Linked DNA regions of Homo sapiens: region 2 is linked to region 1. Evidence: fine-mapped expression QTL. Tissue or cell type: aorta. Region 1 holds a variant in brackets; the other region holds the start of a gene. All regions are shown on one strand. Distances are between the middles of the regions.

What was found. PIP is the estimated chance that this variant, and not a neighbour inherited with it, causes the effect.
Region 2: it holds the start of ZFAT, and the variant in region 1 is fine-mapped to the expression of ZFAT in aorta (GTEx, PIP 0.98).

The regions. Positions count from the first base shown.
Region 1 is chr8:134,185,519-134,191,450 of GRCh38, forward strand. No RefSeq gene overlaps it. Among named protein-coding and RNA genes, the nearest start is that of LINC03024, 500 kb to the left of the region's middle. The variant A/C (reference allele first, on the strand shown) is at 2,514.
Region 2 is chr8:134,710,315-134,714,841 of GRCh38, forward strand. It overlaps ZFAT (zinc finger and AT-hook domain containing), which reads right to left and starts at 2,717. Exons shown (of 16, transcript NM_020863.4): 1 at 2,531-2,717. The coding sequence starts at 2,549. RefSeq lists an enhancer at 2,549-2,728.

The DNA.
Region 1 (5,932 bases):
GCTGAAAATACAGAGGCGAAGAAAAGCTGTCCTTGCCCTTGACATGTTAAATATCTAGCAAGGAAGGCTTCCAAGATCTTAAATCAGAGGCAAGTATCTTAACTTAGAGACAAATAATGCTGAGTATTATAAAATGACCAAGAAACTTGCCTTTGATGTCAGAAGACCTGAAGGTTTCTGTACAAGTAGGTGGGGGAAGGGAGGATCTAAAGAGGTTTCTGAAAGGCATGGGAATAAGATTTTAGAAGAAACTTGTGGAAAGGAAGCATCCCAGGCTCAGGAGGTAAGTTAAGTCCTAGACTTTTGAAAGCAGAGATTTATATGGCGAATGGCAACTGAAACATTCTCCAAAGCACAATGGTCTTACTAGGGAGCCACCTGTGAAGTGCACAATGCCCAGCTGTTTCTAGTTCCTGACATCAGTCACGGACACAGTCTGGTGCTGGGAGGGGCTCATCCACAGGATAGGCCGTGACACATTAACCCAGAAACTGCTTGGTTTTAGGTGAAATAAGCCAGACCTTAATCATTCCATTTGATAATGGCTTCCTAATACTAGAAGTTCTCTTTTAAAACTGTGACCCATTTCACAATTTACAAATAATTTTAAAGTGTTACCCCCTCCCTCTCCTTGGGGGATATGTAGTGTTATACCTGCTTTACAGATGAGGAATGCATAGCCCAGCAACCATACATCCAAGAGGGCCATGTGGAAACACAATCCAGAAGTTGGCAGAAGGGTCCAGGACAGCTGGTGAAATGGTGGTGCACCCTGATAGTTTGGGCATGGTTGAAGTTAGCAATTTAAAAGATGGTGCATTGTGGAGAGGAGCAGCTGTCAAAATTCAAAGGAAGATGATCTACCTTTAAAGAACAGTGATCCCTCGGCTCTAGATCAGAATAAAAGCCCAGGTTTTAGGTTTACTTCATATGGGAGAGAAATCCTAAGGGAAAATGAACTAAAATATCAGCAAGGTAGTCCTCAACCTTAGTTGTAATGCCCTGAAGAGCATGAAGGAAGAAAATGGAAGAATGCCCTCTTAAGACAATTTTAAACATAGCCATTTTTTAGCATTGCTCCAAGACAAAAGCAGAAGGGCCATTGAAATAAATCTCTAGGTTTTTATACTCTCATGATTATCCAGGGTGGGACAAGAAAGCCAGTTAACAGCATGTTGAAAGGTCACTGCAAAAATACAGAGTCGACTCAGTTTTTCTTTCTTATGTTTACCATTTTGTCTCATTTATTTCCCTTTGTTATGTCAAGGCCAAAATTCTAACTGCAAGCTTTCTTCTCAACCTGCTCCATCTCCCATGTTCCTTCTTAAGCAACCTGCTTATTTTCTTTCTGCTAGGTAATGTATAAAGAATTGCCTCTTACCAATGTGAGTCCTTCATGTTAAACTCACAGTTAACTATTGGATCTCAGGCATCAAAGGGGCATTAAAAGTTTACCTCGCATAGTCACTCACCCAGTGATTGGCATGTGTCTATACCATCCTTGACAGATTGTCTGATAAAACTATACTTGGACAGCTACAGTGATAGGAAACACATTTCTAACTAAGTCTTCGTGTTCCCTCACTGGGCAGCTATTTATTACTAGAAATCTCGGCCTCCTGAATCCCATAGAGCAAGTCTGTCTTTACTTTGGCTTGAAGATCTTTCAAATAAATGATGTAATGCTATCTCTCTCCAACTCTGGAACAAAGTATTAAAAATCTCCCTCAGATTGAACATTCCCACTTCTTCCAACTGTTCTTATATGACATGTTTTAGGTTGTTCTCCACCTCACATTATATGAGTCACTCTATCCAAAATGGATCTCAGTTAAAAAGCTCAATAAGCCAAGTGGGTTCTGACATCACATTAACAGAATATAACTGCTAGTTCTTTATCATTTTTGCCTTTATAAGGTAATTTTTTAAAATATTGAACCTGGGTAAAAGTCAGTGTATCTATAGTAAACATATATTCTTTCCTTTCCCGACAACCATTCTCATTGTGAGGCAATGGGCCCATTTGTTATTTGGAGATGCCTGCTCCCCAATTCTCATTCCACGTTGTTTGAGTCAGGTCTGCTCCAGTCCCACAGAAGGAGCAGGGACATGCCTACACCAGTCAGCAGGTCACAGTAATTGGCTCGACAGTGGACCCTTGACTTCAGTCAGTGAGATCAGAGTGGACTGAATAACTTCAACTGAGTGTATTTCAGGTGGCCATTTTTATGCTTGATTTAAGCTTAGAAAAGATGCAGCCTAGATGCCATATTGAGCCAATTGGTGACTCTGAGACCTATTGGAAAATGGAGTCAGCATAGAGGAAGCAGAGCGAAGATACAGAGAGAAGATAAACCACAACCTGGTGGTATTGCTGAAGCATTGGAGCAAGCATATTTGAAGTCGGATGGATTCCTAGGTACTTGAGTTGTATACAGCAGTACATTCCCTTTTGTAGTCAAGTCAATTTCAATCCGTTTTTTAAAAAAATTTACACCAAAAGAATACTAATT[A/C]ATAAAAGATAATAGTACAGTCAAGAACTTAAGAAAGAATCTTAAAGATTCTTTGTGTTGGTTCTGATGCAAGTTTATAGGCAATTTTCTGGGCCTGTTCAGCCATCAATAAAATGAATACCTTCATGTCCATTATCAGAGGAAATCCACACGGCTTCTCCAAAGATGCTTTCAAGGACACTTCTAAAACATTAATATAGACATATGAATGACAGAAATTAATCCTGTTGCTCCTTGTTGATTTTGAAGATGCACATGGAGGCAACAGTGGGCTGACTCTCAAGACCTGGACAATAAAACTGCTGTACCCTTAAAGCATACCGGGGAAGCCAACACATAATATGCTCATAGAAAATTTATGTTAAATGAACAAATGAATGACTAATTTATCCTAGTTATACCATTTTTCCAAACCTAGATCTTTGGAACTAATACATATTCAAGGACAGAAACATGAATAAGATATGGTCTCACCCACAGCCATCATGAGAGAGAGTTTCATGTGGTACTTACCTGACGGTTCCGATGGTAACCACATGGATGGTCTTAAGGAGGGGCAGTGCCCTGGCAAAGAGGTCATTGAGAAGACCAAAACACAGGTATCCACGATGCACAAAAACCACACCTAGGATGCACCGTTTTTCCAAAGCCCACTTTCGCTTCCCAACCCTGTCCTACATCCAATACCATACAAGACTCAGACAAGCAATGGAGTCCCTTAAGAAGGTGGAGGGCTCCTCACAAGTCCTATAAAAGCATCATCTACCTGCTGTTGCAAAGCTGCTGGCCTAGTGTGAGGCAGAGCAAGTCTCCCTGGAAAATTGCATCAGCTTACTCTGACTTAGAGGACTTAATGCATTTTTACAAATGGAAATAATAAACCCTCAGGAAATATTATGAAAATGAACCTGTAAACACTGAAATTGAATCTAATCATGAACAAGTCATAGCTTAGACTAATGAAGAATAAATTATGCTGAAATACGAACAAAATTTGTCCTTCAGTCTGATGGGGAAAAGGTGTCAGTAGGAGGCAAAACCCACACATGACTTTGGACTACAAGATATAATTTGATGAGCCACTGCAAAACTCATCTCTAAACAGACTTATTTGGCTGTAAGTATAGGTCAACCACTAGAGCTAGAAAATAATCAAACCATATAACCTTTGCAGGAGCTACATTTCTTGCTCAAAACCTTTCTCATTTTTTTTCTCTCTTATTCACTCTTTTCTGCTCAGGAAGCATGTAGGTTTGCTAATTCCTTGGGATACATTTCATCCAGACTTTATGATCTATAGGTCACCATTTTTTCCCCAGTCATATTGCTGATAACAATTTTGAATTTTCAAACCAGGTCTTTTTTTTTTTTTTAACCATTTGATGAGCTTTTATGAATGGATCCACCCATATAAACATCATAGCATTCAGAAAATAGAATATTTTCATCACTCCATAAAGCTCCTTTACAATGCTTTGCTGAAAATTTCATACCCCTCTTCCCTGCCTTCCAGACAAACACTGAATGCATTACTTTTTCACTTTCTTTTTTTTGTTTATTATTATTATTATTATACTTTAAGTTTTAGGGTACATGTGCACAATGTGCAGGTTAGTTACATATGTATACATGTGCCATGCTGGTGTGCTGCACCCACTAACTCGTCATCTAGCATTAGGTATATCTCCCAGTGCTATCCCTCCCCCCTCCCCCCAACCCACAACAGTCCCCAGAGTGTGATGTTTCCCTTCCTGTGTCCATGTGTTCTCATTGTTCAATTCCCACCTAGGAGTGAGAATATGCGGTGTTTGGTTTTTTGTTCTTGCGATAGTTTACTGAGAATGATGATTTCCAATTTCATCCATGTCCCTACAAAGGACATGAACTCATCATTTTTATGGCTGCATAGTATTCCATGGTGTATATGTGCCACATTTTCTTAATCCAGTCTATCATTGTTGGACATTTGGGTTGGTTCCAAGTCTTTGCTATTGTGAATAATGCCGCAATAAACATACGTGTGCATGTGTCTTTATAGCAGCATGATTTATAGTCCTTTGGGTATATACCCAGTAATGGGATGGCTGGGTCAAATGGTATTTCTAGTTCTAGATCCCTGAGGAATCACCACACTGACTTCCATAGTGGTTGAACTAGTTTACAGTCCCACCAACAGTGTAAAAGTGTTCCTATTTCTCCACATCCTCTCCAGCACCTGTTGTTTCCTGACTTTTTAATGATTGCCATTCTAACTGGTGTGAGATGGTATCTCATTGTGGTTTTGATTTGCGTTTCTTTGATGGCCAGCGATGGTGAGCATTTTTTCATGTGTTTTTTGGCTGCATAAATGTCTTCTTTTGAGAAGTGTCTGTTCATGTCCTTTGCCCACTTTTTGATGGGGTTGTTTGTTTTTTTCTTGTAAATTTGTTTGAATTCATTGTAGATTCTGGATATTAGCCCTTTGTCAGATGAGTAGGTTGCGAAAATTTTCTCCCATTTTGTAGGTTGCCTGTTCACTCTGATGGTAGTTTCTTTTGCTGTGCAGAAGCTCTTTAGTTTAATTAGATCCCATTTGTCAATTTTGGCTTTTGTTGCCATTGCTTTTGGTGTTTTAGACATGAAGTCCTTGCCCATGCCTATGTCCTGAATGGTAATGCCTAGGTTTTCTTCTAGGGTTTTTATGGTTTTAGGTCAAACGTTTAAGTCTTTAATCCATCTTGAATTGATTTTTGTATAAGGTGTAAGGAAGGGATCCAGTTTCAGCTTTCTACATATGGCTAGCCAGTTTTCCCAGCACCATTTATTAAATCGGGAATCCTTTCCCCATTGCTTGTTTTTCTCAGGTTTGTCAAAGACCAGATAGTTGTAGATATGCAGCATTATTTCTGAGGGCTCTGTTCTGTTCCATTGATCTATATCTCTGTTTTGGTACCAGTACCATGCTGTTTTGGTTACTGTAGCCTTGTAGTATAGTTTGAAGTCAGGTAGCATGATGCCTCCAGCTTTGTTCTTTTAGCTCAGGATTGACTTGGCGATGCGGGCTCTTTTTTGGGGCCATATGAACTTTAAGGTAGTTTTTTCCAATTCTGTGAAGAAAGGCATTGGTAGCTTAATGGGGATGGCATTGAATCTGTAAATTACCTTGGGCAGTATGGCCATTTTCATGATATTGATTCTTCCTACCCATGAGCATGGAATGTTCTTCCATTTGTTTGTATCCTCTTTTATTTCCTTGAGCAGTGGTTTGTAGTTCTCCTTGAAGATCAAACCAGGTCTTTATTACTTTCTCATTACCACAACATCTTTTATTTCTACTTGAATTGCAGATTCCATTTTGTGACATCATCTCTTCGTCTAGTTGTTGGCATTATCTGAAATACATTGTCTTTTGTATCTTTGGCTGACCAAATTGTTAACTT
Region 2 (4,527 bases), 520 kb after region 1:
AATTCCTTAGAGCCTGTTACTTGCACAGGACACTTGCCTGGTGCACCTGTCTCCAATGGACTAATGCCAGCTCCTGCAATAAACCTCTGAAACCAATGGTCTTTGTTTCAAAACCGCTTAGGTGGACTTCCCTTTTGGGTCTTTAAAAGTTTCCATTTGCCCCAACTTCTTTGGACGTACCTATGATCCAGCATAGCGCATGTATCTAAATTGCAATCCCCTATTATTCCCAAATAAACTACAGTTTCAGGATCCCATATCCAAAATGCTTGGGACCAGAAGTTTTAGAATTCCAGATGTTTTTGGATTTTGGAATATTTGCATATACATAGTGAGATAACCTGAGGATGGGACCCAAGTCTAAACATGAAATTTATTTATGTTTGATGTGCACCTTATACACACAGTCTGAAGGTAATTTTACAATATTTTTAATTTTGATCATGAAACAAAGTGTACAATGAACCATCAGAAAGCAAAGGTGTCACTATCTCAGCCACACATATGGGCAATCTGTGGTTGTCTGGCATCGCCATCATTCCCGACTCTGAATTTCTATGCTACCAATAAGACAATCACTTTCTTACATTTATTTACACATAAGTCCTTACCAGTAAAAAATATGACACACCATTAATACAGTGAAAAACAAGGTGTTCAAGGTACCTAAGCGGCACAGCAGCATCACCAGAACACATGCATCAGCTGCTAAACAACAGAACAATAAACAACGGCTGGCTTTAAGTCTGCTGTTCAGCCTGCATTTCTTTCTGAGTGTTAACAGCATCGTCTTTACAGTTGTGCAACTGTTGTTTTGTTTTGTTTTTTGAGAAAAATAGAGATGGGGTTTCACTACACTGCCCAGGCTGGTCTTGAACTCCTGGACTCAAGGGACCCTCCCGCCTCAGACTCCCAGAGTGCTGGGATTACAGGCGTGAGCTACTGCGCCCGGCTATGGAACTGCATTTCTGCTGAGAACCTTCACGAGGTCAGATAGAAAATTTTCCACTGTGGCCTCATGTCAGTGCTCAAAGTTTCAGACTTTGGAGCATTTCCGATTTCGGATTTTTGGATTAGGGATGCTCAACCTGTATTTGGAGAGCAAGTCTCTCCGGTGCTCATTTTAGGCTAACCTAAGACAGCACACCTGAATCAGCTGGGCACCACAGCTAATCAGCGCACCTGTGGTCACAGCTACTTGGCAGGCTGAGGCGGGAGGTTTACCTGAGGGCGGGAGGCAGAGGTTGCAGTGACCCGAGATTGCACCATTGCACCCCGGCCTGAGTGATAGTGCGGGACTCTGTCCCAAAAAATTAAAAAAATTAAATTAAAAAAAAGCACGCCTGATATAGTTCGGGTCTCCTGACCCAATATTCGGCTCTGGGCCCACTCTGTCACTCCAGGACACATTCTCCCACATCTAGCACCGCAGCAGGTGGAGGCAGGACTACGACTGGGACTGCTCTTTACCCCTGCCTGGCGTGCAGAGGGGATCCTTGCAAAGCTGTTATTTGAACTAAAGTCAGGAAAGGTGTCCCTGGGGGTTAGAGGTAGGACACGCTACTTCCTTCAGCATGGGGACACACACTACAGATGTTTCAGTAGATGAACTGGTAGGCTCGGAAGATAAAGCTGGTGAGAGGCAGCTGTGCGGGGCATCTCCAAAAGGTCACTTGGACTCCAGCAAAAAAAGCCAGACTGATGGGCAGGCGTGATCAGTTAGCGCGTTCGTTCTTTCATTCACTAAGTATATAGTGAACACTTACATGAGCCAAGCCCTATTCTAAGAAGATGGAGGTACAAGTCAGGCGAGCACGCAGGAGTTTGGATTTTAGCCCAAGTTGGAGGAAGTTAATTTTTAAAGCCCCAGCTCTGTCGTTTTTAAACTGTGTAAAGTTGACCTCTCTGAACTTCTGTTCCTCATAATAAATGACCTACAAATTAGAGTTCTCAAGAGAGCTGAGCAGCAAAACGTGTTAAGTCAGTGCCCAAATGTGGAAGCTTGTGGTAATTACAGGTGAAGGACCCCAAGCTCAAGGTTAAATGACTTGCACCGGGTGTCAAGTGGAAGATCTGTCACTCTATTAGGTCCAGCCGGCGGCCGGGAAGCCTGCAGGAGGTACTCATTTCGCCAAGGAGGAATCCGAGGCCAGGCAAGAAGGAAGCCCCGCCAAGGTCCAGTCAAAGAGCTGGCATCGCCGGGATTCGAACCTCGCGCCCACTGCGTTCCGTCGCTGGCCCGCGCCCCAACGCCACCCATTGCCGTGGAAACGGCCGGGCGCATGCTCTCCCACTCGCTCCCGCCTTGCTTTTTTTTTTTTTTTGCGGCGGGATACCCCAGCGACTGAACGTGAGCCGCAGAACGCAACTACGTTCGCTCTCCTCCCCAGACCCGGATCCCTCCGCGGCCGGCGGCCGGCGGCCGGCGGCCGGCGCACTGCTTCCCGACTCGACGCTCGAAACGGCTTTCCGCGCGCCGCGCCGCGCCCCACCCCCACCCCGTCTCACCCCAACCCCCAGCCCGGCTCACCTGCCGCCCGCGTCTCCATGGCAACGCCCCACCGCGGAGGAAAAAAAAGCCTCGGGCTCTTCCGGGCCCCCTCCCGTGCCGACCGAGGGGGCGGGGCGCCCTGCTGACGCTTCGCTTTTTATTTTTATTTTTTTAAGAAAAGAGCCGGCGAGGTTATGGCGAATCTGCGGCATCCAACATGGCGGATGGAGTCTTCGCCCTCCTCCCCACGGGGCGCAGACGCCTGCGTAGCGGACGTCCGCTTCGGGTGACCCTCCCCCGGCGCCGAGCGCGGCCCGGCAGGGCCGAGCTAACGCGCATGCTCGCAGTCGGAGGCCGTGCTTTTTATCCCACTTCACGGATTCCGCTGCGCCGCGTTTTGAGCCACGCCCAGGGAGGGGCCCTCGGGAGGTCCGGAGCGCGGATCTCGGGGTCAGGAGTCTGGCGGTTGTGCCAGGCCTCTGCTAGCGCGACCCTAGACCCGCGGCATGTGGGGCCGCCGAGCTGGGCGTGCAAGGAGAGTTCTGGGTGCGCTTCGTGTCCCAGCTCTACCTCTCACTACCTAACTTGGGGCAGCGAATTAACTTTTCTTGCTCTCAGTTTACTGATGTGTCCATCGGGGTGCTCCCAACCTGCATCCCGCTCAAAGCTGCGGCGTTTCCCGAAGCGTGGGGTGCTTTCCTTTGGGCCACCCGGCTGGGTTTTAGGGGCTACAGAGCACTGAGCGGCCTACGATCACACGTGACAAGGCGACTTCCTCCTCTCTCGTCTCTTTTTGTCCCACAACAAGTCTGCACTGGATGTGCGCGCCTCCAACACCCGCTCATTCATTTCTCTGCTTGTGGCACAGCCTTCGGCAGGCAGCTGAGTCTGGTGGAAATTTAATGACTTTGTTTTTGGTTTTGATGTTAAGGTGTTTAGCTCCAACACTGTAGTCCTCGGCTCAAATGATATCTTCCAGCCCCTAACCCTCACCCCCCGAAACCCATCTAAAGTAACCCTCCAAGACACTTCATATTTTCTACGTAGCATCCATTCCTATCTGTCATTATCTCCCTCCCTTACCTCTGTCAATGGTCACCCCGTTAGCCTCAGAAACAAACTGAGCCTGACAGTTATTTATTTCATGAGTAATGAGTTGATGTGGTCCATGTTCTAAGGTCATTTTCTGTTCATGACAAATAACGTTTTTCACTTACAGTAGTCATATAAAGTTTTTAAATTGTTCGTTTACATTTTCAAAAATCAGTCAACTTAAAATGGTGTACATGCTGCAAAGACATGCCCCCCCCCCCCCAAAAAAAAAAAGTGTAAAAGCAGACTTCAGGAGACTGAAGTTTGGGAAACTGATTTGTGTTCATGGTTCCCCTGAAATGCTAGTCTTTGCCTGTTCTTCTTTTCCTGGAATAACCCTCTTTGGTTGCTGCTCAACATGAAATTCTCGGACAGCCCTGAAGTTCACACTTCATGTTCCCACAGCTCTGGTCTCACTGGCCTAGCTCCATCCCCCACTTCTCTGTTTGCACAGCGTTCATCCTCACTAGACTGAGCTTCCTGAGCAGCCCTTATAGGTCCTTTTCATCTTGTTTTCTCAGCGCCTGTTGCATAGTCATATTACTGAATGAACACTTCGTTCTGGGGTCACTTATTTTTTAGGAGGAAAACTCCCTTGGGCATTGAGCTTCAGGATGACTCATCTGATTTCTCAGGAGACTGCCCGCCTGCTCCTTAACCCTGTTCTTGGGAAATACGGAACCATGAAAAGACCCTAAAGTTGTCCAGTCTGTTAAATATATGCTCACAGATATAGCCTCCCCCTTCTTCATTTCATCCTCGCAATCTGGAAGGTTAAGTTGGGCAATATGATTATTGTCCTTTTCCAGATGAGAAAATGGAATGTTCAGAGTGGTCAAATGGCTTTCTGAGATTACACAGCAAAATAGTGAAGAGCCAGGTGTGGATCTCGCCTCTCCATGCCCAGTGTTCCTCTCCCCACCACATCTAAAATGTACCCAAAC